Regions from separate parts of the Homo sapiens genome. Here regions 2, 3 and 4 are each reported to be linked to region 1. Evidence: microRNA targets listed by miRTarBase, many of them from high-throughput screens and not tested one by one. Region 1 holds a microRNA gene; each other region holds the end of a gene's coding sequence.

Region 1 (3,000 bases):
AAAGCAAGAGATTGGAAATTATAGTCCCAGCTCTGCCATCAGTCATGTGACCTTGGAGCTGCCTTTGAACCTCTGGGTCTGGTGTTCCCAGCAGCAGACTCAGGGTGCTTTGCACCAGGCAGTGCTCTCTATGTGATCCCCTAAGAGCCATCTGGTGGTTCTTACTCAAATTACAAATGTGTAGGCCCCCACCCCAGATCTACTGAATCAGCATTTCCAAGGGAGGGTCTTGGGTCTTCACTAGAGACCCAGGCAATTCTTAAGATTAGACAAGTTTATAAAACGGCCACTAAATCAAGCTCGTTCAGCCTGTGGGCTGCACGCAGCCCAGGAACAGCATTGAATGCAGCCCAACACAAATTCATAAACTTTCTTAAAATGTTACAAGATTTTGTGTGTGTGTGTGTGTGTGTGTGTGTGTGTGTGTGTGTGTGTTTTTAAGCTCATCAGCTATCATTAATGTTAGTGTATTTTATGGGTGGCCCAAGACAGTTCTTCCAGTGTGGCCCAGGGAAGCCAAAAGATTGAACACCCCTGCTCTAAATGATCTCTAACATCCTTTTTTTGTAGCAAGAGTTTATGAACCTTGGCCAGGCACGGTGGCTCACTCTTGTACCCAGCATTTTGGGAGGCCGAGGCAAGCGGATCACCTGAGGTCAGGAGTTCGAGACCAGCCTGACCAACATGGTGAAACCCTGTCTCTGCTGAAAATACAAAATTAGCTGGACGTGGTGGCTCACGCCTGTAATCCTAGCACTTTGGGATGCCAAGGCAGGTGGATCACCTGAGGTCAGGAGTTCAAGACCAACATGGTGAGACCCGTCCCTACTAAAAATACAAAATTAGCCGGGCGTGGTGGCGCATGCCTATAGTTTCAGCTACTCAGGAGGCTGAGGCAGGAGAATTGCTTAAACCCAGGAAGCGGAGGTTGCAGTGAGCCAGGATCCTGCCATTGCATTCCCGCCTGGGCAACAAGAGCAAAACTCTGTCTCAAAAAAAGTTTATGAACCTTGCACTGCAGAGGCTGCGAGATGTTTGGGAGAAAACCTTTTCTTCGAGATCTGTGGCATACCCAGAAAGTTGACTGTGCGCTCCTGTGCGTGTGTGAACATCCATTCTAAAATTGCCTTGTTTACTTGGCAGTTGTCTCATAAGAGCAGAGTGCGGGGGAAAAGCACTCCAATTGTCTCAGCTTTCTGCTGGTTTAGATTCTGGGTAAACGTTCACTTTACTCTTAATCAACATGAGCAGGTTTTGCCCAACATTTCTTCATGTGTTGAAAAGTCTGTGCAGCTTCTCCCTTCCATGAAATAGCTCTTAGCTTGACCAGGTTCACCCTCCACATTTAAGAGAGTTTAAATACTGCAGCTCCAAAATGACTCCGCGGACAGCGGCTGGAATGAGACTTGCTGCTGTCTCAATGAAAGGGCTCTTCCTCTGTCCGCTGTTAGATTTAGGTTTTTCTCTCTGCTGGGTGAACAGTGGGAGAATGCCTCAGAGACTTCTCCAGCCCCACATGGGGAGGAGGCCTTGGCAGGTTCCCTCTGTTCCTCCCTTCTGAAGTATCCCTGAATGGTCACTCTTGAACCTGTTACTGCTGCTGCTGCTTGGGGGCACAACAGCCAAGAAGTTTTCTAAAACTGAGTAAAATCCGTTTATCCTTCTTGCTGACTGGAGTGCCAGGTGTTGTGACTCATAGCAGTGCCTGGTTGGGGAGGGTCAGCAGGCTGTGCATATCTGACTTCCCATAGGCCCAGTATGTGTCCGCCGCAGGAAAGAGGGGCCTCAGCTGCAAGGGAGAAAGCAGTTCTTGATGCCTGTAGATCGGGGCCCAGTGAGGAAAGCTCCAGGGAGAAAGGCCGCTGGGCTTCAGCCTTGGAGTTTGTGTCTGCCTATTTCTGTTGGATACATTTGAGCTGTTTATGTAACCACGTGTGTTCGTCTGCACAGGTCCTCCCCAGATACACCTGTGATCGGTGTTAATTCTGGCTTGAAAGAGCCCTTCAGAATGGGAAGTGTGGAAAGGTGCTAGGTTCTGATGGGTGGCATTGATTACATCCTGTCACTTAACCTCCTCCCTGGAAAAGAGAGGAGCAGTGGTGCTGTGGCAGTGGCAGAGGTCGCTACAGCCCTGTGATCTTTCCAGGAAAGAGACGGCTTTGGAGGCCTGGCAGCAGCCAGAGGAAGAGGTCGTGGCCGTGGCGACTGGAGCGTGGGAGCCCCTGGTGGCGTCCAGGAGATAACATACACGGTGCCAGCCGATAAGTGTGGCCTCGTCATAGGCAAAGGTAAGAGGCAGCTGGGGTTTCACATCCCCCCTCAGCTGTTTGGCTTGAGGGAAGGCAGGTCACGGGACCTCCAGAACCTTTGGTGAGGTCCCTTTGCTGCTGCAGGCTGGGGCTGCCCGGTCTGGAGGCAGTAGCCACCTTCTGCCGAAACCCTGCTTGGCATGGTTCTCTGAGGCTGCTGACGGGCCTGTTGTGAGGAGCAAAGTGTATTATTTCTGGTGAGTATGAAGAGACAGCAGTAAAACTCCCTGCCTGTTGAGGGCAGCTTAGCTTGGTGAAAAGATACCTTGCGCAAGATGGGGGGCATTTGTCAATCGACTGATTGGTAATTAACTCACCTCCAAGGAACTTAGAGGGACGGTTGAGACAGTATCCTCAGTGAAAATTCCTTCTCGACAGTGTGTCACTTGTTTCCCTTACCAGGTTTGAGTATTTGGTCTTGATCCGCGTAACATGTGAAAATGGTTTTTATCCTTTCTGCATATTTACCGTGAGTCACGGACTCTCTGTGGAGGGAAATAAACATTGATGTGTTAGTTTTTTCTGGGCATTTTGGAGAACATTAGGAAGAAACCCTCATTCATGGCTACTGTAGCTCCTTCCTGTCCTTCACTGAGAACCAGGAGAGAGCAGCCACATTTCTCAGCCATTGGCAGCAGTTCATCTTGGCTAGCCCTGGGACCCAGAAAGGCTACTGAGACCAGGGCCGAGG
Region 2 (7,693 bases), not on the chromosome of region 1:
GTGCCCAGGACAGGGTTGTGCAAGGTCTCTGAGCTGTGTCCCTTTTTTTCCCCACAGCAAGACAGCTTTGCTGGAGGGCCTGGAGGTGGACCAGTACATGCTGGGCATCCTGATTTACATTCAGAAGTAAGCATCCTCTTCCTGTGATCCCTGCATCTGTGGCCACTGGAGGGCAGCCCCAGGACATGTCGGGGGATGTCCCTTGCCAAGTGCAGCCTTCCAGCCTTTTTCCGGCATGGAGCAGGCTGGATTCCAGGCCAGAGACAGCGTGTGTGTCCTACCTGAGTGTTGGTGCTGGGCCCAGCGTCCTGCTCGATGTGGAAGGTGCTGGGTGGAAGCAAGCATTTGAGTGGGGGAACCTGCCTGGAAACAGCCCAGGGCTGGGAGGGGCAGTGGGTGCCGGGCCAGCAGCAGGCCAGGAGGTAACCATTCCCCACCTGTCCCTGCCCAGCTCTGACTATGAGGAGATCACCATCGACCCCACGTGCAGCTGGAAGCCAGTGCCCGTGAAGCCTGACATGCACATCAAGGAGGAGCCGGATGGGCCAGCACTGAAGCGCTGCCGCACCGTGAGCCCCGCCCACGTGCTCATGCCCAGCGTGATGGAGATGATCGCCGCCCTGGGCCCCGGCGCTGCCCCCTTTGCCCCCCTGCAGCCCCCCTCAGTCCCTGCCCCCAGCGACTACCCTGGCCAGGGTAAGTACAGCAGGCTAGCCTTGAACCTCAGATGACCCTGGGCATATGGCTCCTCTCCCCAGATCAGTCTCCTCACCTGCAAGAATGTGGCTATGCAGGTCACACACCTAGGTTATCAGTGTTGCCACACAAAACATGCCGCGGGGCACCTCCAGCCCCTCCCATCTCAGGGACGTGGCGGTGAAGGCACAGTCTCAGCTATGGTCCCAGGAAACAGACAGTGGGGCCTCCACCCTTCCTTCCCCGTTTGGATTAAGGGGCTCCTGGCTGGAACACCTCACAGGACTGGCCCCATCTGGGGCCCCCCTCTGGGACCCACCTCACACGCGTGGTGCGTTTGTTTGTGGCTGCTCCCATTCCTATAACCTCCGAGACCTTCACTCCTAGGAATGTCCCAAGGCCAATTCCCTTGGCAGCAATGAGAAGAAATGCCCTTTTCCAAATAGCGACTTCTGCAAAACCCGCTGTTGTTTGTGGGTGAGCACTGCAAGTCCCACCCATGCCACAGCCAGCCTCCCTCCTGGCTCCTCTGCCAGCGGTGGCCTTCCCCAGCCCTCACCCAGGCCCCGACTCTCCTCTCACAGGTTCCAGCTTCCTGGGGCCTGGAACTTTCCCTGAGTCCTTCCCACCCACCACGCCCAGCACCCCAACCCTTGCTGAGTTCACCCCGGGACCACCCCCCATCTCCTACCAGTCTGACATTCCCAGCAGCCTCCTGACTTCAGAGAAGTCTACCGCCTGCCTCCCAAGCCAGGTCAGTGCCAAGCCGAGAGGCCAAGGGGCCCTGTCTCCCCAGGGGAGCCCCTGAGCTGTTTTAACAAATTCTTCTCTCTGTCTTCAGATGGCACCAGCAGGTCACCTGGACCCCACTCACAATCCTGGGACACCAGGACTACACACCTCCAACCTTGGGGCCCCTCCAGGTCCCCAGCTGCACCATTCAAACCCTCCCCCAGCGTCCCGGCAGTCCTTGGGCCAAGCGAGCTTAGGACCTACGGGTGAACTGGCCTTCAGTCCTGCCACAGGCGTGATGGGGCCCCCCAGCATGTCTGGAGCCGGGGAGGCCCCAGAACCAGCTCTGGACGTGAGTACCAGGCCCCATGCGGGGGAGTGCGTGGGAGCCAGGGCTAGAGGTGGTGTGTCTGTTCCAGGTGCGTTCTGGAAGGGAAGACAGTGACCCCTCAGAGAGCCGGTCAGATAAGGTCAACTAAATGCAGCTTTTGTTCATGAATTAGATACCTGGAGTAGCTGCGGGTGGGATGCGATGTACCACATTTGTGTTCATGAGGGGCCTGGATGCCGTACGGGCGGACGCAGAGTCTCAGAGGAGACTGCACTGGAAGCTGACAGCACGGTCCTTAGAGTCAAATTTCGTCTGTCCATTTGCTCAGTAGCCCTGGGTCTTGACTCACAGGTGGAATGGGAGTGCAAACTCAGTACATGAAGGACAGAACTGACTGTCCCTGGACCATAATAGAAACTCATTCTAGAAGTTCAACATGAAACTCATTCTAGAAGTTCAACATGAAAAAGTTAGGAAGAACAGCTCCAAGCAGAAAATCCTAGGGGCATGGAATTCCACCACCAGCATTCACCTTGGGGCATCACGGTGGGGATCCCCACGCAGGCTGATGCACAGAGGGAGTGTGGAGTGGCTGCACTCCCTCACATCCCGTTTCCTGGTGGTATTGAACAGCATGTTGCCAGCTGTTCTGGCCCCAGAGCAACCTTGCAGGGAGGTCCCAGGGGGTGGCGTGTGCCTCTTTGAGCACATGCAGGCCTATGGTGGGGCCCCGCACCCGGCCTGTGTGTGAGGAGGGGCTGCTCAGCATCCCCACTGTGCCTGGAGACAGGGCCGGGATGTGGTGACAGGATGGTCACTCAGGTGTGGCCAGTCAGTGACCAAAGCTGCTAACAGAGTTCACTTTGTCCTCAGCTGCTCCCGGAACTGACCAACCCTGATGAGCTACTGTCCTACTTGGGCCCACCCGACCTCCCTACGAACAACAATGACGACCTGCTTTCTCTGTTTGAGAACAACTGATCCTGTGTTTACCCCAAGCCCGGCGGGGACACGCTCACAGATGTCACCACAGCCCTGCCCTTCATGCCCAGCCCCATGGGACACCCGGTGGTCTTTCCCAAACCTCCCCCAAAACACACCTGGAGCCAGAGCCTTCTGCCGCCAGCCCTGCCCCTGAATTGGAAGCAGCCCTGTGCTCGATGGGAGGGGCTCCCAGGCCGGCAGCCCTTGCCACCTCCCTCTGCCAAGCCTGCTGCTGCAGAACGGTTTTTGCTGAGGTGCCCCTGCCCAGCCCTGTCCAGCCTTGTCCACACACACATCTCACGCCCCTGGTCTCACAGCCTCACACCTTGTCCTTCCACCCCTGCCTGCCCCCACCCAGCCTGCTTCTTGTCCAGCATTGATCCTTCTGTTTCAACAACTCCTCCACTGGGCAGAGCTGGGCATCTGGCAGGGCTGGCTCTGTCCCCTGGGCCTTTGGCTCCAGTGGCCCCTGTGCCCAGCAGTCCAGCTCTTGGAACCTCGCTGAATGGCAGCCTCTTGGGGGCCTGGAGCTCTGGCAGCCCAGCCGTGTGTGGTGTCAGGTTCCTCTCCCCACCCCAGCTTCAAGCAGAGGCCTCGGGGTGGGGGAGCTACAAAGCACAACAATGTACATAGTGTAGAAACACTAACAGCTGGGAGAGGGGAGCCAGCTGTCCAGCCAGCATGTTCCTGTTGTACAGCCCGGTCTCCCTGCGCGCTCTGCTCCTTCCCATGTGCAGACAGATCAGGGAGGAACCTCCAATGGGTGGGGGACAGTGAGCTTCGGCCTGGCCGAGGTGGGTGGGTGGGCTCTCAGATTCAGCTCTGTGTAAAGATTCTCTAGCGGGCTGCGCTCCCAAGTTCCCCTTCTCTGTGAAAGTGAAGAATTAGTACAGCTGTGTTTTTTAAAGCCACCTCTCTGTCTCCACCCCATGGGCCCACACCCAGGTGGGGGAGGAGGAAGCCACTGCATCTGTTGGCTCAGGGCCCCAGCCTGTGCGAGCAGGGCGCCTGGGCTGTTGTGTCTCCTGTCTGTGCCGATCTCTATTAAAGGACTCCCTCTTGGTGGGCCTGGCCGAGTCCCTCCTTTGTGCTCCCAGGGACTATTTTCTCCTCGTAAGCCAGCGACCTGCCTAAAGCTTGGGCTGTGCCTGCAAAGCTTGTGCAGGACCTGGGGGCCAGGTCGACCTTCAAGTGGCTTTTGGGGCCCCAGGTTGAGCTCTGGATGTTTCAAGCCAAGGCTCGGCTATTCCCGCCCCATAGTAAATTTCCTTTTCCCTGGAATTTTCCAAGTTGGCTTCAGCTGAAGAGCTGTTTTGTGAAGCATCCCAGGCTTGCCCAGGAGAGACATTTGCCACTATGTCACCTTATCTGGGCTTGCCCTGGGGCACTGAGACAGTTGTTTGGCAGCCCCAGCCCAGCCAGGGGCTCATCCTTCTCAGCTCTTGTCCCTGGGAGGCCTCTGCTTGTCACTTCCCAGAGATTGCAGAGGTGTGTCCTGCCTACCATCTGCCTGTCCAGCTTGGTGGGGGTCCGGGTCACCATTTCCTCCAGTCCTGGGCCCCATCCTTGAGGGCCTTCCCAGCCAGCCAGCAGGAGAGGCAAGAACTGGGGGAACACAGGAACCTAGGGGAGGAGGGGAGCGCTGGGCATCCTCAGGCTGGCGGCCAAGGCCTGCCCCTGGAGGCACTAGAGGAGGGCATCTGTCTGTGGGAGCCCAGAGGCTGCAGGGAGGAGGAGGAGGGAGGTATCTGGTGTGAGCGTTGCCCCTGCGACATTTGGGACCACACAGGTGGGCTTCCTTATTCCCTGACAAAGCCTCTGTTTCCAGCTCTTCCGCCCTCTCTGGATGAGGGAACAGAAGTGGAGGAAACAAAAGAAGCAGCAGCACGCACAGTCCTGTCGCTGGGTGCGGAGACAGCCTGGCAAAGTCCCACTCAGCCATGGCCTGATGCAGGCCCCAGGCCCTCCTTTCTTGGGTGTCAAATGACTGTGTCCTGGACATCTGATGCACCACCTGCCCTGCCTGTTGCAAACGTGATGCTCCCGGATGGAGTGGAGAAACTAGGAGACTGGGACAAGCAAAAGGCTGCAAACAACCCAGAAGCCCATCCTCAGAAGACTGGAGAAATGATTGAGGAATGCATGGGCACCGTGGCCCTGTGCTCCATCACAAACACCTCTCAGAAACAACGTGGGATGAAAAAGCAAGACAGTTCATACAGTATGATGCCATTTTTATAAAGCTCAAAACCAAATATGTGTGGAATTCATACCCAGGTGCTAAAGTCATCAGGGAGGGCAGGGAGTCAGTACAACACAGTGCTCACCCGTGGGGAGGGGACGGAGCTGTGCTTAGGGAAGAGCAGAGATGCTGGAGGTTTTGAACCTCAGGGTCAGTGGTGGCTTCGTGGGTTTCACTTTGTCGTACTTTCTGTTTCACACATTTTCTTGTGAATGTGCCAAGTATTACATAAAAACCAAAAGGCTGACCAGACTTAACAGTGCTCCACCCAATAGCAGCAGAACACACGTTTCTAAGTGCACAGGGAACGTTCTCCAGGACAGACCACACGTTAGTGCACAAAGCAAGTCTCAGTAAATTAGAGATCGGAATCCTGCAAACCACCTTCTCCAATCACAATGGAATAAAACCAGAAATCCATACCAGAAGGAAAATGAAAATTCACACATACATAGAAATTGAACACACTTTTTAACAGCCAAAGGGTCAAAGGAGAAATCACGAGAAAAATTAGGAAATAGAGATGGATGAAAACAACATACCAGAACTTAAGGAATGCGGCAAAAACTGCTCTGAGGGAAATTTATAGCTGCAAATGCCAACATTTAAAAAGATGCGACATCTTGGCTGGGTGTGGTGGCTCACGCCTGTAATCGCGGCACTTTGGGAGGCCGAGGCAGGCAGATCACCTGAGGTCAGAAGTTCGAGACCAACCTGGCCAAAGTGGTGAAACCCTGTCTCTACTAAAAACACAAAAATTAGCCAGGCGTGGTGGCTCACACCTGTAATCCCAGCTATTCACGAGGCTGAGGCAGGAAAATCACTTGAACCCAGGAGGCAGAGGTTGCAGTGAGCTGAGATCATGCCATTGCACTCCAGCTTGGGTGACAGAGTGAGACTCTGTCTCAAAACAACAACAAAAAAATTCCTAGAAAGATACAAATGACCAAAATTGTCCCAGGAAAAATAGAAAATCTGAACAGGGCCAGGTGCAGTGGCTCACACCTGTGATCCCAGCACTTGGGGAGAACTAGTTAGGAGGATGGCCTGAGGCCAGGAGTTCGAGACCAGCCTGGGCAACAGAGACCCTGCCTCGACAAAATCTTTAGAAATCAACCAGGTGTCATGGCACGTGCCTGTAGCCCCAGCTACTTGGGAGGCTGAAGCAGGAGGATAGCTAGAGCCCAGGAGTTCAAAGCTGCAACGACCTATGACAGCACCACTGCACTCCAGCCAGGAATGAGGCAGAGACAGAGACCTGACCTCAAAAAAAGAAGAAAAAGGAAAAAATCTGAACCAACCTAAAACACATAGGTAGAACCAGTCATCAAAAGCTTCCCAACAAAAGAAAAGCCCAGGACCAGATGGTGAATTCTACCAAATGCTAAAGAATGGACATAAATCCCCAAATTCTCCCAAACATTGTGGAGGAGAAAACACTTCCTAATTCCCCGTATTCATGTGAGGGGCCAGCTTCCCTCCCATTCTGCCCCAGCTTCCTCCAGTGGCCTTCCCCAGCAGGCAGTGGCCCCCACTTCTGACCCCTGTAACTCTACCCACTGTGGGTTTCCTCCTTGCCACCCTTCCAGCCTTCCAGGCTTTGGGGGCCATTGAGACAGCCCATCCTGCCTGCCCTGAGTGGGAGGGCAAGACATGACTGGCTCAGGATGGCCTGTCACCCAAGTTGCCTCAAAGAAGCCAGGGACATCAGTGCAGTCGGATGCACAGTGCAGTAGGTTTTGGTAAGTGCACACGCGTGTGTACCTGCCCTTCCAAACCTCACAGGAGAGACCAACCCACACCCCACCCCAGGTCATCACTGTTCTGGCCCCTGTCACCAGAGATTAATTTTGCCCTTTCTGAAACTTTATGTCAGTGAATATTAGAGTCTGTGTCTTGTTGTTAACTGATCCTTAAAGCGTCTGTGTTTATTTTCTTTTTTTTTTTTTTTAAGACGGAGTCTTGCTCTGTCGCCCAGGCTGGAGTGCAGTGGCATGATCTCAGCTCACTGCAACTTCCGCCTCCCGGGTTCAAGTGATTCTCCTGCTCAGCCTCCTGAGCAGCTGGGATTACAGGTGGCGCGCCATCACGCCTGGCTAATTCTTGTAATTTTAGTAGAGATGGGGTTTCACCATGTTGGTTAGGCTGGTCTCGAACTCCTGACCTTGTGATCTGCCTGCCTCGGCCTCCCAAAGTGCTGGGATTATAGGCTTGAGCCACTGTGCCTTTTTATTTTCATTTAACTGTATATTGTTCTTGTTCATTCTCTCAGTTACCACTTAGAAGGGAGGATTAATGGGTACCCTTCCCCAGCATCCTATACCCCAGCTCTTCTCTGACCAAGTCTTGAACCCTGTCATGGTACATTAGCTAGGACTCAATAGGTTGCAAGTGACGGTGACCAATTCAAACCAGTTAAGGAAGGAAGGGGCTCAAAATAGCAGTCCTGAAAGGGCCCTGGGGCAGCTGGACATGGGTAGGCATCCTTCCTTGGCCTCTGTGTGCAAGCTTCACCCTCAACCAGCTGCTTCTGTGAACTTGAGATCCAAGCTTCGGAGCCTCACTTCTCATTGATTCACCCTAGAAAAGAGGTGATGATCACTCTCCTTCTGGTTCCAAGTTTAAAATCCCAGGGATGGGATCTGGTTGACTCAACCAGGTAGGGACCCACCCACACAGCTAGAGTGGGGTCAGGAGCACTGCCCGAA
Region 3 (7,693 bases), not on the chromosome of region 1:
AGGGAATTGCCAGGCTTTGTATGGGGAGATGTGCGTATTAGGAAATAGCCCCTAGAGAATGCTTGGAGAAGCAGAGCTGGATGAGGTGGTGACGTCCTTGTCCCTTATTCACCTCTCACTTAACGGCCCTGACTTCACTCTGGCCTCCTCCAGACCCTGCCAGTCAGCCTGGCAGGGGCTTTCCAGTGTTCTTTGCCTCACCCTGGGTACCAGGATAAGGAGACTGTTCAGAGGGCTGAGGTTCTCTGAACTTGTGACTTGGCTAGAAGGGACAGAAGTGGACAGGTGGCTGGTTAAAATAGGCCTGGTGGCTTCTAGCCAGAGGAACTTAGCTGACCTGACAACCTCTGGATTCCCTCATTCTATATTCCCATTAAGGACCCAGGGATCTCCTCCCGACTCCTACTCCATGTGCACTAGGGAATCTGAGGCACTTAGTTCCCAATGATGGTAGTTGCTACAAATAATTCTTGGGGTGAAGGTTGCGTTGTGGGGGTCGTTTCTTTGTTCAGTGTAGCAGGATAATATCACAGTTAAGAGGGCAGCTTCGGCCGGGGGTGGTGGCTCTTGCCTGTAATCCCAGCACTTTGGGAAGCTGAGGCAGGTGGATCATGAGGTCAGGAGCTCAAGACCAGCCTGGCCAATATGGTGAAACCCCGTCTCTACTAAAAATACAAAAATTAGCTGGGCGTGGTTCGCGCGCCTATAGTCCCAGCTGCTTAGGAGGCTGAGGCAGGAGAATTGCTTGAACCTGGGAGGTGGAGGTTGCAGTGAGCTGAGATCGCGCCACTGCACTCCAGCCTGGGCAATGGAGTGAGACTCCCTTCTCAAAAAAAAAAAAAAGAAAAAAAAAGAGGGCACGTTCTTGGGTTGAACTGCATTGGTACAATCCTGGCTCTATCACTTCATTGATTCTACTTTTTTTTTTTTTTTTTTTTTTTTTTTTGCGACGGAGTCTTGCTCTGTCACCAGGCTGGAGTACAGTGGTGCGATCTCGGCTCACTGCAACCTCTGCCTCCTGGGTTCAAGCCACTCTGCTGCCTCAGCCTCCCGAGTAGCTGGGGCTATGGGCACGCACCACCACGCCCAGCTAATTTTTATATTTTTAGTAGAGACGGGGTTTCACCATGTTGGCCAGGATGGTCTCCGTCTCTTGACCTTGTGATCCGCCTGCCTTGGCCTCCCAAAGTGCTGGGATTACAGGCATGAGCCACTGCGCCTGGCTGATTCTACTAATATCAACTGACCACTTTTGCTACTGTGTTCTAGGCACTGGGAATACAGCCATGATCTAGACAAAATCATATTCTCATGGAGTTTTCATTTTAATTAGGGAGAGAAACAACTTAAGATAATTCCTAGCTGTGTGGCCTCAGTTTCTTTAACCTTAAAACAGGTATAACAGTAATATTATGGTTGTTTTGAGGATTAAATGAAAAAGGCCAGCGTAGTGGCTCATTCCTGTAATCCCAGCACTTTGGGAGGCAAAGGCAGGAGGATCACAAGGTCAGGAGTTTGAGACCAGCCAGGCCAATATAGTTAAACCCCGCCTCTACTAGAAATACAAAAATGAGCCGAGCGTGGTGGTGCACGCCTGTAGTCCCAGCTATTAGGGAGGCTGAGGCAGGAGAATTGCTTGAACCTGGGAGGCGGAGGTTGCAGTGAGCCGAGATCATGCCGCTGCACTCCAGCCTGGGCAACAGAGCGAGACTCCATCTCAAAAAAAAAAAAAAAAGAAGAAGAAATAAGCCTAAATTACATACATAGTACCTGTGGTAAATGTTCATTATGTGCTCCCTGTTACTGTTACTGGGGAAGGCTTCCTTATCAAGGGTTTCAATCCTCTTTTGTGCTATTTGTAGGTAATTCAGTACCAAACTGTTCGATATGATATCCTCCCCTTATCTCCTGTGTCCCGGAATCGGCTAGGTAAGTATGTGGTGGGAAGCCTCCTTTAGGGTGAAGTAGGGGCTAGCTCTGGGTCAGAGGTCGGTCAATATTATTCCTCCCCACTCTGGTTCAGCCCAGGTGAAGAGGAAGATCCTGGTGCTGGATCTGGATGAGACACTTATTCACTCCCACCATGATGGGGTCCTGAGGCCCACAGTCCGGCCTGGTACGCCTCCTGACTTCATCCTCAAGGTGTGTGGTGGTGGGGAGTGATGAAATGGTTCCATCTGTTCCTCTGCCCAAACCTGGACTCCCTTTCCCAGTCCCAGAGCATCTGTCTCCATCCGCTGGCACCAGTGTCAGCCTGGAGGAGGGAAGCAGATGGGTGGGGCGTTTTCTAGGCCTGGGTTGTGGTGGTCATGACATCCCCCAGCCCATCTTGTTCCTCTGTAGGTGGTAATAGACAAACATCCTGTCCGGTTTTTTGTACATAAGAGGCCCCATGTGGATTTCTTCCTGGAAGTGGTGAGTTTTGGAGAGCTAAAGGGAGCTCTGTAATGAAGGAATGGTTTTAGGGCTCTGGGAATTGGGAGGATTTGGAGGAAGGGGTGAGGAGAAACGGGTTAGAGCAGTTTTCTAGAGGGGAGGCTGTGTAATGGTAGGGGAGTGGCTTTCAGTACTTGGGGTTCATTTGTTGTGCTGATGTAATTCTTTTCCGCTGGCATCTTTCTCTTTTGTTCTTGCATTTCTGAATCATAAGAGTGTAGGATGCCTAACACTGAGTTTGGAGGTTTGGGCTGGGGGTTCAGAATTTCGTGTCCTCAGAGACATTTGATGTTGATGGAAGGCCTGAAGGACTATGCCATTGCCTTTCTGAAAGATAACTGTATGTCTAAAGGAATCATCACCTTGTATGGCATCGCCCTCTCCCCCAATCTATTTCAGGTGAGCCAGTGGTACGAGCTGGTGGTGTTTACAGCAAGCATGGAGATCTATGGCTCTGCTGTGGCAGATAAACTGGACAATAGCAGAAGCATTCTTAAGAGGAGATATTACAGACAGGTAAGCTAGAATCCCAGTCTAAGAGTGTGGCTTGGGAGGGAGGCCACCAGGGAGGGATCTGGGTTTGAGGAGAGTATCCTGGAGAGAGGCCTGCTACATGATCCCCTGCCTTCCAGCACTGCACTTTGGAGTTGGGCAGCTACATCAAGGACCTCTCTGTGGTCCACAGTGACCTCTCCAGCATTGTGATCCTGGATAACTCCCCAGGGGCTTACAGGAGCCATCCAGGTACGGGGGAAGGTGGTGAGTCTGGCAGGACCAGAACATGGTTCTGAGAAGGTATTTTTGCAGGAGACCTGGGCTTTGGTCCTTGAGAGCTGGGATTCCCTAGATTATCCCTAGTTTGCTGTAAGTCGAAATGCAAGTTATTTTTGTGTTTCAAATGAGATACCATATATGTCCATTTCATAAGTCGGATTTCTTATATCATTTTTTTCATTTTTAAAATTTATTTTTGGCTGGGCACGGTGGATTATGCTTGTAATCCCAGCACTTTGGGAGGCCGAGGCAGGCGGATCACGAGGTCAGAAGTTCGAGACCAGCCTAACAAACATGGTGAAACCCCATCTCTACTAAAAATAGAAAAAACTAGCCAGGCGTGGTGGCGCACGCCTGTAATCCCAGCAACTCGGGAGGCTGAGGCAGGAGAATCGCTTGAACCCGGGAGGCGGAGGTTGCAGTGAGCCGAGATTGCACCATTGCACTCCAGCCTGGGTGACAGAGCGAGACGCCGTCTCAAAAAAAATAAATAATAAATAAATAAAAATAAAATTTATTTTTATTTATTTTTTGAGATAGGGTCTCACTCTGTTCCCAGGCTGGAGTGCAGTGTCATGATCATAGCTCACTGCAGCCTCGATCTCCCAGGCTCAAGTGATCCTTCTGCCTCAGCCTCTCAGTAGTTGGGACTACAGGCGTGCACCACCATGCCCAGCTAATTTTTTTATTTTTTATTTTTTTTTGAGACAGAGTCTCGCACTGTCACCCAGGCTGGAATGCAGTGGCGTGATCTCGGCTTACTGCAACCTCCGACTTCCAGGTTCAAGCAATTCTCCTGCCTCAGCCTCCCAAGTAGCTGGGATCACAGGCACCTGCCACCACGCGCAGCTAATTTTTTGTATTTTTAGTAGCGACGGAGTTTCACCACGTTGGCCAGGCTGGTCTTGAATTCCTGACCTCGTGATTCGTCCGCTTTGGCCTCCCAAAGTGCTGGGATTACAGGCGTAAGCCACTGCCCTTGGCCAATTTTTTGATTTTTAGTAGAGAAGGGATCTCATTATGTTGCCCAGGCTGGACTCAAACTCCTGAGCTCAAGTGATCCTCCCACCTCGGCCTCTCAAAGTGTTGGGATAACAGGTGTGAGCCACTGCGCCTGGCCAAGTGTGTTTCAAGTGAGGCACAATGGCAGTAAGCTTGACTAGAAGCATCAATAGGTATGAGATCTGGTGATTAAAACTTAGTTTCGGAGCATAAACCAGGAAAGTTTTACTTAGGTTGTTGACTTCCGGTAGTGGGAGGCATATATTTTTAACAATAATTCCTCCTTCCCTCCAAGAAGAGAAAAACACCGTCTCTCTTGAATTCTGTTTCTTCTCATCTGCATTTTCACCCACCCTAGACAATGCCATCCCCATCAAATCCTGGTTCAGTGACCCCAGCGACACAGCCCTTCTCAACCTGCTCCCAATGCTGGATGCCCTCAGGTAAGGGAAGTGGGCTCTGGACACTTGGATATCTCAAGAAAGGAGGAGGTGGGGGATCCTCAGAGGGAATAAAAAAGGTTTGTCCTGTTTTAACTCTGTTCCCTTAAGAATTTAACATTTGGACCCAGGTCGTCTTACTTCAAAGCTCATCACTTTAGCTAGTAGGCTGTGGGCAAATTGAACCTATCTAATCATGAATATGGTGATAATTTAGGTCCCACATCTCCAGTGATGCTGCCTTACAAGAGTGTTGTGAGGGTATGAACTATAAGGTACTCTACCAATGCAAGTTATTGTCACCCCAGGTTCACCGCTGATGTTCGTTCCGTGCTGAGCCGAAACCTTCACCAACATCGGCTCTGGTGACAGCTGCTCCCCCTCCACCTGAGTTGGGGTGGGGGGGAAAGGGAGGGCGAGCCCTTGGGATGCCGTCTGATGCCCTGTCCAATGTGAGGACTGCCTGGGCAGGGTCTGCCCCTCCCACCCCTCTCTGCCCTGGGAGCCCTACACTCCACTTGGAGTCTGGATGGACACATGGGCCAGGGGCTCTGAAGCAGCCTCACTCTTAACTTCGTGTTCACACTCCATGGAAACCCCAGACTGGGACACAGGCGGAAGCCTAGGAGAGCCGAATCAGTGTTTGTGAAGAGGCAGGACTGGCCAGAGTGACAGACATACGGTGATCCAGGAGGCTCAAAGAGAAGCCAAGTCAGCTTTGTTGTGATTTGATTTTTTTTAAAAAACTCTTGTACAAAACTGATCTAATTCTTCACTCCTGCTCCAAGGGCTGGGCTGTGGGTGGGATACTGGGATTTTGGGCCACTGGATTTTCCCTAAATTTGTCCCCCCTTTACTCTCCCTCTATTTTTCTCTCCTTAGACTCCCTCAGACCTGTAACCAGCTTTGTGTCTTTTTTCCTTTTCTCTCTTTTAAACCATGCATTATAACTTTGAAACCAAAGCGGCCTTAGGTCCTTCTCTGGGGTTTTGGGAAGTGAAGAGAGGGGACTTTGTTCACATGCACCCTGTCCCACAGGCAGAGGGGGAAGAGACTGCTGTTGGACTCAAGGGGCAGGGGGAAAGGTGGCGTTGAGTATAGGGATAGAATAATGCGGACACCAGATGCCTGGGATACAATAATGCTGACACCAGATGCTTTGGCGGGAAGGGCCGAGTGACAGGATGGGCGCGCTGGTGGGGAGTGGAAGGACACCTTCGGAGAAGCAGGCTATGGAAGCACGAAAGGAGAAACCGGCTATGGAAGCACGAAAGGAGAAACCTGGACGGCCAAAGGGCGTAGAGCTGGAGAAACCGGGCTTCGTCCGGGGCACTGACGTGGACAGGTTAAGCGGGCGCTGCCCCCAGGTGGCTGGCGCCCCGACCTCCGCTGTCCGGGAAGGCGTCGGTCCCCCTCCCAGCTGTCGCCCAGCCGGCCCCGCCTCCCCGGCGCCCTCCCAAGCCGGCCCTACTTCGCGCACCCGCCACGTGACGCTCCGCCCTCTTTGAGATCACATGATTTAACTCAAGTCCCGCAGTGTTCCTCCGCGCTGGCGTAGTCCCTACCTTTCCAACCTCCTCTCCAGTCCCTATTGGTCTACTCATTTTGGCACTTAAGCGTTCTGTAGATCTCTCCAAACATCTGTTTTCTTTTTGACTTCTTATTTCTGGAGATCATCTCCGCCACTTGGGTACTACTTTGTTTTGGTGTCAACGGCCGCCTTCAGCGTAGCAACACGGTTCGTGAATAGCTAACCTTGTAATTGTCCCTGCTGTTCCTCTACGTTGTTAACGAAAGGAACTTGGAGAACCAAGTCTCGTATGATGATTACCATCTTTTACTCCTCTTCAGCCCCAGCTTCCTTGAGGGGACGGTTGGGGAATAGGTTTAGAGTAATTTTCGATGAGCAAAAGCCAACCGTCTTTGCTACGTCGCCTGCGTAGCCCACAAATTGATTCCAAAGCGATTACGCTAATGGCGTGAGGGGGCCGGTCAGTTGGTGGTGCTACGCTAGCAGCGTTAGCGCCGCTGAGGTAGTGGCGTATCTTAGCGGGGGGGGCAGTCCCCGATAGTCGGGGGCGGGGTTGGTGAATAGGGAAGTGGCGCAAATTCGTGGATCGCTCCGCTGAATCCGCCCGCGCGTCGCCGCCGTCGTCGCCGCCCCCCGTCCCGGCCCCCCTGGGTTCCCTCAGCCCAGCCCTGTCCAGCCCGGTTCCCGGGAGGATGAAGTTCGTGTACAAAGAAGAGCATCCGTTCGAGAAGCGCCGCTCTGAGGGCGAGAAGATCCGAAAGAAATACCCGGACCGGGTGCCGGTGAGGACAGTAGCCAGGGCCGAGGGCGCGGGACGCTTACGCTGACGCCACAGCCTGGCCTTGGATCGGGACAGGCAGCGCAGGGATCAGGCTGCTGGCTGTGGTGGGGTTGGCAGCGAGCCTGAAACTGCTGTCCTTGGGACCCAGGATGAAAGGAGTGGGGTAGTGGTGGATGTGGGGTTGAGAGGGATGTGGACAGGAGAGAGAAACCTTAGCATTTGAGGCCTTAGAGAGTTTGACAGCCTGAGCTTCAAATGGTCATCCCCCCAGCTAGCTAAGGTTGCGAGATTGAATCACTAGTCGACCCAAACAAGTCACCTCCGTCTGATTAAGATAGTTGTTTATGGTGACGCCCTATTGGGGGATGGATCCTGGATATTTAAATGAGCTCCAGTCAGTGAGGTCAGGATCTCTGGGACTCAGTGCTGCACCGCGTGTACAAAGACAAAGAGATGAATCTGGGGTAGATTTAGGTGCTAGGAATATTGTTTCTTGAGTTCTTGACAGGTGCAGCTTCGGGGCTGCATTCCTTCTGTCTCCTAATTTTCATCTCTTTATCAGGTGATAGTAGAAAAGGCTCCCAAAGCTCGGATAGGAGACCTGGACAAAAAGAAATACCTGGTGCCTTCTGATCTCACAGGTGGGAACCTGATCCAAGACTCAGGCTTGCTTCCTGTGGGTGGGAGTGCAGTCTCTGCGGGAGGAGGCTCCACCTAGCAGCTGTTCTT
Region 4 (7,693 bases), not on the chromosome of region 1:
TGTTTTGTATTTTCAGTGTGGGAAGTGACCAGGAAGAGGGTCTTGAGTAGGCAGGCTGGGAGTTAGGTATCTCTCCTCTCCTGCTGCACCAAGGGAAGATGCGAAGAAATCGGAGTTGAGAGTCTTTGGGGAACCATAGTGGCACCTTAGTGGAGGGCAGGCAGATACCCTGTTGTCACTTGGAGAAGAGGAAGGGAAGGTTGGAATGGAGGAAGGTACACATATGGCTGAGATCAGTGTCTCTATGGTTGGATGACCTCCCACTGCTCCACGGCCCCACCCAGGACTTCCCCTGGTGGCTCAGGCTGCACTCTGGTCTTCATGTCCCAGTTCCCAAAGAGCTCAGGGGCAAACATAAGGCTGAAGGTGCGGTTCTGAAGTCACAGGGAGACAGTGGGTAGAGGGTGCTGGGTGGAGCAGGGTTGTATCTCCTGGTAAGGTGGCTCTGAGTGACAGACTGAAGGAGAGACATGAGGAATGGAGGTAGGACTCCAGCTTCTTACTCAGGGGGATGGCTTGTGACCCCTAAGTGTGTTCCCTGCCCTGTGTTGACTCAGGGCTTGGAGACCAAGTATATGGAAATCCTCAGATTCCAGGCATCAGAGGAGGAATCCTGGGCAGCGCCACCACCTGTTTCCCAGCCGCCCCCATGCAATAGGTGAGACGGGGGTTGCTTGGGCTGCTGCCTGGGGGATGTTGGGTTCCTACCCTGGCACCCACAGGGTGACTACAGCATTTAGGGTGCATATGGGAGAACCAGAGTGGGTCTGTTTGTCCCTTTCTTCCAAGAACACCCTTTTCCCTGCCTAAGGCTGCCCCCAGAGCTCTTTGAGCAGCTGCGGATGTTATTGGAGCCAAACAGCATCACCGGCAATGACTGGCGCAGACTGGCCTCCCACCTGGGGCTTTGCGGCATGAAGATCCGGTAGGAAGAGGGGTGAGGTCTGTGGATGGTAGAGGAGGGTGGGCTGGAATGGGGTTCCTCAGGACACTCTGGAGACTGGATCACAGGCAAGGGAGTGACTTAAAAGTCAGAGAATGGCTACTGTCCACCCTATTTCCCATAAAAGGGCAGCTCTATTAATCACTGTATCATCAGTACCTAGAATGATGCCTGGTGCATAGTAGGTGCTCAATTAACATTTAACAGTGAATCCATTAACATGGAAGTTATTTGGTACATGTTGAGTGCTTGCCATGCTATGCCCTGAGGAGGAGCAAGACAGATTATAGGATAATGTGTGTAAAGCATGTAGCTGGGTGCCTGACACTTGTTAATTCAATAAATGTTATCAATAATGGTGACAGTGCAGTCATGATCCCTGTCAAGGAACTCAGAAAGCAGGAGAATACTGAGCTAAGCTCCAGAAACTACACTATGAGTGCAGCGGTCAGGGAAGACTTTATCCTGGTGATGGGGCTAGAGCTGGACCCTGAAAACAGGGTGGATTTTTATTTATTATTATTATCATTATTTGAGACGGAGTCTTGCTCTGTCGCCCAGGCTGGAGTGCAATGGCGCAATCTTGGCTCACTGCAACCTCCATCTCCCGGGTTCAAGTAATTCTCCTGCCTCAGCCTCCCGAGTAGCTGGGATTACAGGCACACGCCACCATGTCCAGCTAATTTTTTATTTTTAGTACAGACGGGGTTTCACCAGGTTGGCCAGGCTGGTCTGCAAACTACAGGGTGGATTTTTAAATCATTCATTTAAACATTTATCAAGTACCTATTATGCCCTGGAAACTGTGCTAAGCACTATGATACAAGATGAATGAGGCATGGTCCCGGCGCCTAGGAGCGCACACACTAGTAAAGGGTTCAGAGAGCTTGAAAAATAAAGGCAAGTGTTCCTTGTGCCTTCCTGTAAGAATCCAGTATTGTATAACACATTGAAGAGAGACAGAAAACAGCTGAAGCAAGAATAATAATGAACTGCGGGCGTTATGACCAGAAGTCTGAACTGAGGGATGCAGAATGTTCTCTTCCACCTGGGAGGGGTGAACTAGAAAGGGCTTCAGGGAGGAAGTGATGGGGAAGAGATCAGCCATTTTGTTTTGGGGAGTAGCAGAGGTGGCTGTGGGTGTAGTGTGTGCAAGGCGAGAAAGAGAGAGGCCTGAGCTAAGGGGGTTCAGGATGGGAGAAAGGAGAGAAAGCATAAAGACAGGGCAAGGCCAGGTGCTGGATGAGCCAGAAAGGCTCATGGAGCGTGGGCTGGTTAGGAGGTGAGAGACTCTGGAAGGTTTTAGTGGACGGGAGAGTCGTGATAAAAAGCCATGGTTTACAGCAACTGTTTCCTTAGTAGTGAGCAGGATGTTGTGGCCTAGGAGAGAGGGAGGAAGGAGGGAGTTAGGAGGCTAGGGGGAGGCTAGGGGTGTATTTGGAGTGGGGGAGGTAGAGAAGGCAATTACAGAACATCAGAACTGTAGCAAACTTAGAGGTCCTCTTGTCTAAGCCCTCATCTTAATAAGAGGAAACTGAAGCCTAGAGAGGAGTAGGGGTCAGAGTTGGCCTCCAAGCCAGGACAATCTCAAGTTTCAAAGCCCTGGGGCTTCCCACCTCCTGTGCCCTGGAAGGCAGGCAAGAGCAGGACAAGGACAAAAGCTACAGGATGGGGAAGGGACGGACCTTGCGCTGCGCAGCCCAGGGAGCCTGCAGCAGGGGGGGAGCCCCTCCCTGCTCCTACACCCTTCTCTTCCTCCCCTACCTCGGGCCAGGTTCCTGTCCTGCCAGCGCAGCCCCGCAGCGGCCATCCTGGAGTTGTTTGAGGAGCAGAACGGCAGCCTGCAGGAGCTGCACTACCTCATGACCGTCATGGAGCGGCTAGACTGCGCCTCCGCCATCCAGAACTACCTGAGTGGGACACACGGCGGCAGCCCAGGCCCCGAGCGCGGGGGCGCCCGGGATAACCAGGGCCTGGAGCTGGACGAGAAGCTCTGAGCGCCCAGCGGGCAGGGCCGGAGGAGGTGTAGGGGCGAGAGGGGTTGTTCTCCTACGCCTAAGAGGAACACAGCAGCTGTTCCTGGCTGTGCCCACCACCCTTCCCAGAACCCTCGGACGGTGCCAGGGCCGCCCGCGTCCTCGCCAGCCTCCCAGCAGCAGGCGCGCCCTTCCGGCCGCGAGCTGTCCCGCGTGCGGGTCCCCTCCTGGCCGGCAGAGGGCGCAGGAGCCCAGGAGATGGCCTCAGCGTGGCCAGCCTGCCAAACTGACCAGGGGACGGCCACGGTCCCCGCGTGCACTTTAGGGCCGGTCAGGCCCTAAAGTATTCACTGAGCACTTAGGAAGACCGGGCATTGGGCTGGTGTCATGAAGAATACTGGAATATAGGAGGTAGGGTCTGGAGCCCTGACAAGCACACAGTTCTTTTGCAGGAGTCAAGATGTGCTCATAGGAGCCAAGGGCAAACTCGAAAACAGCCCTGCCCTGTGGTTAGGGGAGGTGGGTGTGGCTTTAGGAGTTGAGAGGGGAAGAGCTGAGTGCGGGCTGGAGCAGCGAGAATGCTTCACGGAGGATGTTGGGGAGAGAGGATTTGATTTGCCGAGTGGTTTGGAGATCTTTAGGGGCGGGTAGGGGAAGAGGGTGGCTGGACTTAAGGTAGGAGCCGAAAGTGGGCATGGGAGCCCATCCCCGTGGGTGTGAGGCCGGGGTAGGACCAGGCTTCCCGGCTAGGCACGCCTGGCTGGCTGCCTCTGCCTCTACTAACTTCCTTTGTCTCTTTATCCTCCTGCTTAGGCCGTGTCTTCCTCTCTCTCTGCCATTTTCTCTATCAGAAAACATTAAAGCTGAGTAGAAACTTCAAGATGATCATTCTGGCCCAGCCCTTTTATCTCTTTATCTCCAATGGTGTGCGTTTTAAGTTTCTCTGACTTGGTTTTTCTGTCCCTGTCTCCCACAGTTGTTCCCGCTCTGCACCTGTGTTTCAGTTACTCTCTCTCTCTGTCTTAGATCTTTTTGTTTCTGCCTAGTCTCTGTGCCCTGTCTTTGTGTGTTTCTTTCTCTGCCTGAAACCCTCCCTCTTTTCCCTTCAGGCATATGTCTCTAAACCAATGTTATGTATCAAAGACTGTTGAAAGAGACAGGGCTACTCTAGGAATGGATGGGTGGGGATATTTTCCCCATGGATCAAGATCCAGTTTAGGGTTGGGAAATAAAGGATAGGGATAAAAGAGGCACCCCATTCAGTCAGCAGATACTTATTCAGCACCTACTATGTGTTTGATACTGTATACAAAAGACATGAATGGGCTGGGTCCTGAACAGAGAATAAAGGGTTTGACTCCATTCTGGAAATTCTTTTGTTTGCAAACAGGTGTTGTTAATTTGTTCAAAGGCAGGCAAACAATCTCTCTGGCAACACAATTTTCTTCTGTATTTAATTAAAAAATATTAAAGCTTTTTTTCTATGATGAATGATAAAATATGAAAATTGCCTTCCTTTGTTACTAACTATATTTTGCTCAGATTGGCAAATTTGGATGTGAGTATGAATGATTTTATTTGGTAAAATTGTACCTATGGGGATGGGTTGGAGGGAAGCATTTTGTAGATTGTGCTTCCAGTATGAAAATTACCTGGGTCCCGCATGGTAAGTCAGGGAGGTTCCCTTCCTTTTCTGTTAGATGCAAGCCTTCAGAAGCAGGCCTTTCCATCCCTTCCCTGTTCCCCTATCCCCACCAGTCCTCTCCTACCCTTCTCATCTGTCCTCCTTACCCCATCGGGTGCTGCCAGTCACGCCAGATTAGTGCCCCGGACTTTTCCCCCTTCACTTAGCTCAGGATTGAACTGTGCAGTAGCCCGGCACTGTTTAGCCAAAGACATCATTGTGTTCCTTCCTACCCTGGAAAAAATCATTTTAAGAGTTTCACATCTACTGGAGTTGCAAATAGAAGCCACACAGATTCCAGTGATGGGAATAGAATGCTTTCTGGCCCCAACTCCAATTTCTCAAAATGCGTTTCCAGTGCTGGCAAAGGGAGGCTTGGAAATCCTGGGGTAGATGCAGGCCAAGTGATTCCTATAAGGCAGACACTTCCTTTCTCACATCAAACCCATTTGGCATGTTATGTATTGGCACCTAATGCTGAGAGATGGTGTGCCCCAGTGAGCATCAGGAGACTTAACATTTAGCCCTGACTCATACTAACTAGAACAGCTCTTCTTTGTGCTTTAAACTCTTCCTTGGAATGAAGCTACCATATTAGAGGCTGTCCCAGGGCCTTTGATTTCATAGACTTATGCAGAGGTGGCACACTGGTCACCCAAGGAACGTTCACTTGGGGATTTTTTTTTCTTTTTGAATTGCCTTCAAATAGCAAACAATTGATCACTGCTTGTGGCCTTACTTCCAGCCCTTTCCCTGATGAAGAGTTGCCTAAATCACCTGCTGAAAAACACTGCGTTTGTGATTTCTGCTTTTTCACATGTTGCAGAGGCCCACGTCTACACTTCCTCCTGCTGGATTTGGAGTCTGGGGAAAGGCGATGGGGAAATGAAAGGGTAAGGTTGGGCCTAGGTCTGTGGGGTTGGAGCCTCTAGTGCTCAGAGGAAATGTGTGTCCTTGGCATCCCCTTTGACCACTGAGCAATATTTATGCTAATGTTCAGATCTGTGCTAACAGAAATTCAATGAAAGCCACATATATAATTTTACACTTTCTAGTAGTCACATCAAAAATTGTAAATAGAAATAGGTGAAGTCAACTTTAATGTTTCATTTAACCTAATATATTCAGAATATTATTTCCACATGTAATCAATATAACATTAATAGTATATTTTACATTCTTTTTTATATTATTTGGAATCTGGTGTATACTTTGCAATTACACCACATCTCAATTTGTATGCTAATTTTTCATTGGAAAGATTTCATCTGTATTCAGCTTTTATACAATTTATAGCTAAAATGTACATTTACATACACAAATGAGCCAAAAGTTTTCCAAAAATGGGATTAGGTATCAGTTTTTAAATTTTAGTTCACTGAAATAAAATAAAAATTCAGTTCCTCAATTGCACTAGCCACATTTCAGTTGTTTAGTGGCCATGTGTGGCTAGTGGGTACTGTTAATGGACAGCACAGATCTGGGTTAGGAATCCAGCTGGGTATAACTTTATAGTGTTTTTACCATTCACTTATTTATTAATTCGTCAAACATTTGCTGAATACCTACTCTGTGCTAAGCCCTGCACAAATTGTTGGTGATAACAATCCAGTGAAGAAGAAACATTCTTGTTCTGTAGGAGCTCCTGGAAAGCTGGGAGTCAGAAGGAAGTACGCTTTCCTCCCATCCTTCTTTGTACCTGACTCAAGAAGGCAATGGGAGATGAGGTTCAGGCCGATACTCTCTGTTGCAGAAATGGTTCACACTGCAGCCTGGTGTAGAGGCAGTAGATTCAGGGTCAGTGTTCCTGGCTTATCTAGCACATCAAGTGGGTTGTTGGTTGCTGACAACAGGATTCACTCTGGCTAGTTGAGGCAGATGGGATTTAATAAAGGAAACTGAAGGACAAACAATCATTTGGAGGGTGGAGAAATAGATTTGGGGTAAAGTTTCCAAGAACAATGCCCTAAACTGTGCTGTAGGGCTAGATCATGGAGGGAAACTGGTATTACTATGGCTGCTGCTACTGAGCACTGGACACCAGGAACTTGACTTTATTGCAGCCACTCTTGCCACCACCACTGATGCTACTTCTGAGGCAGGAACCAGACCTCACCACCACATTTTTTTTTTTTTTTTTTGAGATGGAGTCTTGCTCTGTCACCCAGGCTGGAGTGCAGTGGTGCGATCTCGGCTCACTGCAAGCTCCACCTCCCGGGTTCACGCCATTCTGCTACCTCAGCCTTCTGAGTAGCTGGGACTACAGGTGCCCGCCACCACGCCTGGCTAATTTCTTTTTGTATTTTTAGTAGAGACGGGGTTTCACCATGTTGGCCAGGATGGTCTTGCTCTCTTGACCTCGTGATTGGCCCCCGTCGGCCTCCCAAAGTGCTGGGAATACAGGCGTGAGCCACTGTGCCCGGCCCCTCACCACCACTTCTGAAAGCTAAGGCCTCTGCTGCCTTCCATGCCAGCAAAAACAGAAGCTCCGTGCACTGCCTGCTCTTTATGCTACTCACTTCTGAATCAAATCTCTAGTGGAGGCCTTGGGTTGTGAGAGCTCAGACCACATCCCTGAATCTTAGCTGCAAAGACACCTGAACGCTCTGAACTCTGACTCGATCTCTGACTTCAATATTAGGGAGATGAGACTTATTACATGAGAATATCCCCAGATACGGGAAAGCTACTCAAAAGTTGATGAGAAGCCACAAATATGACAGATGTCTACTACAGTCAGAGTGTGGTCATGCTGTAGCCTCAGGCAGCAAATTCCCTTCTTAAGAACAGCCATTCACTCAGTAGGTGCCATATCAAGGTTCTGGCAGCAGAGTAGACTGAGGATGTACTATGGATTGAATGTTTCTATGCCCCTAAAATTCATATGTTAAAATCCTAACCCTCAATAAGATGGTATTAGGAAGTGGGGCCTTTAGGAGGTAATTAGGTCATGAAGGTGGAGCCCTCATGAATGGCATTAGCACCCTTATAAGAAGAGACACAGGAGAGCTTGCTTCCTTTCTGTCTGCTTTTTATCACATGGGCGCACACAATGAGAAGATGGTGGTCTGAGAACCAGGAAGAGGGCCC

What was found. Region 1 holds the annotated microRNA hsa-miR-6856-5p (AAGAGAGGAGCAGUGGUGCUGUGG, at 2,085-2,108, shown strand). A microRNA usually pairs through its seed, bases 2 to 8, with sites in the 3' UTR of a target mRNA and lowers its output. Matches are read on the target gene's strand: a 7mer-m8 pairs with bases 2 to 8, a 7mer-A1 pairs with bases 2 to 7 and ends in A, and an 8mer does both.
Region 2: miRTarBase lists ZMIZ2 as a target of hsa-miR-6856-5p. Seed matches in the 3' UTR shown: 7mer-m8 at 3,655-3,661 and 7mer-m8 at 4,581-4,587.
Region 3: miRTarBase lists CTDNEP1 as a target of hsa-miR-6856-5p. Seed matches in the 3' UTR shown: 7mer-m8 at 5,141-5,147.
Region 4: the mRNA of UNC5CL is a reported target of hsa-miR-6856-5p. Seed matches in the 3' UTR shown: 7mer-m8 at 3,743-3,749.

Annotation. Positions count from the first base shown.
Region 1 is chr9:130,624,218-130,627,217 of GRCh38, forward strand. MIR6856 (microRNA 6856) reads left to right here and starts at 2,080; the gene lies at 2,080-2,146. FUBP3 (far upstream element binding protein 3) reads left to right here. Exons shown (of 19, transcript NM_003934.2): 12 at 2,147-2,288.
Region 2 is chr7:44,764,884-44,772,576 of GRCh38, forward strand. ZMIZ2 (zinc finger MIZ-type containing 2) reads left to right here. Exons shown (of 19, transcript NM_031449.4): 15 at 58-126; 16 at 452-696; 17 at 1,281-1,450; 18 at 1,538-1,780; 19 at 2,633-4,998. The coding sequence ends at 2,740. Among named protein-coding and RNA genes, the nearest start is that of ZMIZ2, 20 kb to the left of the region's middle. RefSeq lists enhancers at 3,101-3,627, 3,462-3,601.
Region 3 is chr17:7,241,513-7,249,205 of GRCh38, reverse strand. It overlaps CTDNEP1 (CTD nuclear envelope phosphatase 1), which reads left to right. Exons shown (of 8, transcript NM_001143775.2): 2 at 1,863-1,929; 3 at 2,024-2,142; 4 at 2,344-2,415; 5 at 2,836-2,952; 6 at 3,069-3,180; 7 at 4,571-4,655; 8 at 4,961-5,615. The coding sequence ends at 5,021. It overlaps GABARAP (GABA type A receptor-associated protein), which reads left to right and starts at 6,757. Exons shown (of 4, transcript NM_007278.2): 1 at 6,757-6,965; 2 at 7,527-7,605. The coding sequence starts at 6,876. RefSeq lists silencers at 5,995-6,104, 6,695-6,884 and enhancers at 6,497-7,048, 7,049-7,600.
Region 4 is chr6:41,023,620-41,031,312 of GRCh38, reverse strand. It overlaps UNC5CL (unc-5 family C-terminal like), which reads left to right. Exons shown (of 9, transcript NM_173561.3): 7 at 558-658; 8 at 812-925; 9 at 2,718-4,418. The coding sequence ends at 2,940. Among named protein-coding and RNA genes, the nearest start is that of UNC5CL, 12 kb to the left of the region's middle. RefSeq lists a silencer at 3,015-3,124 and enhancers at 3,265-3,464, 3,535-3,604.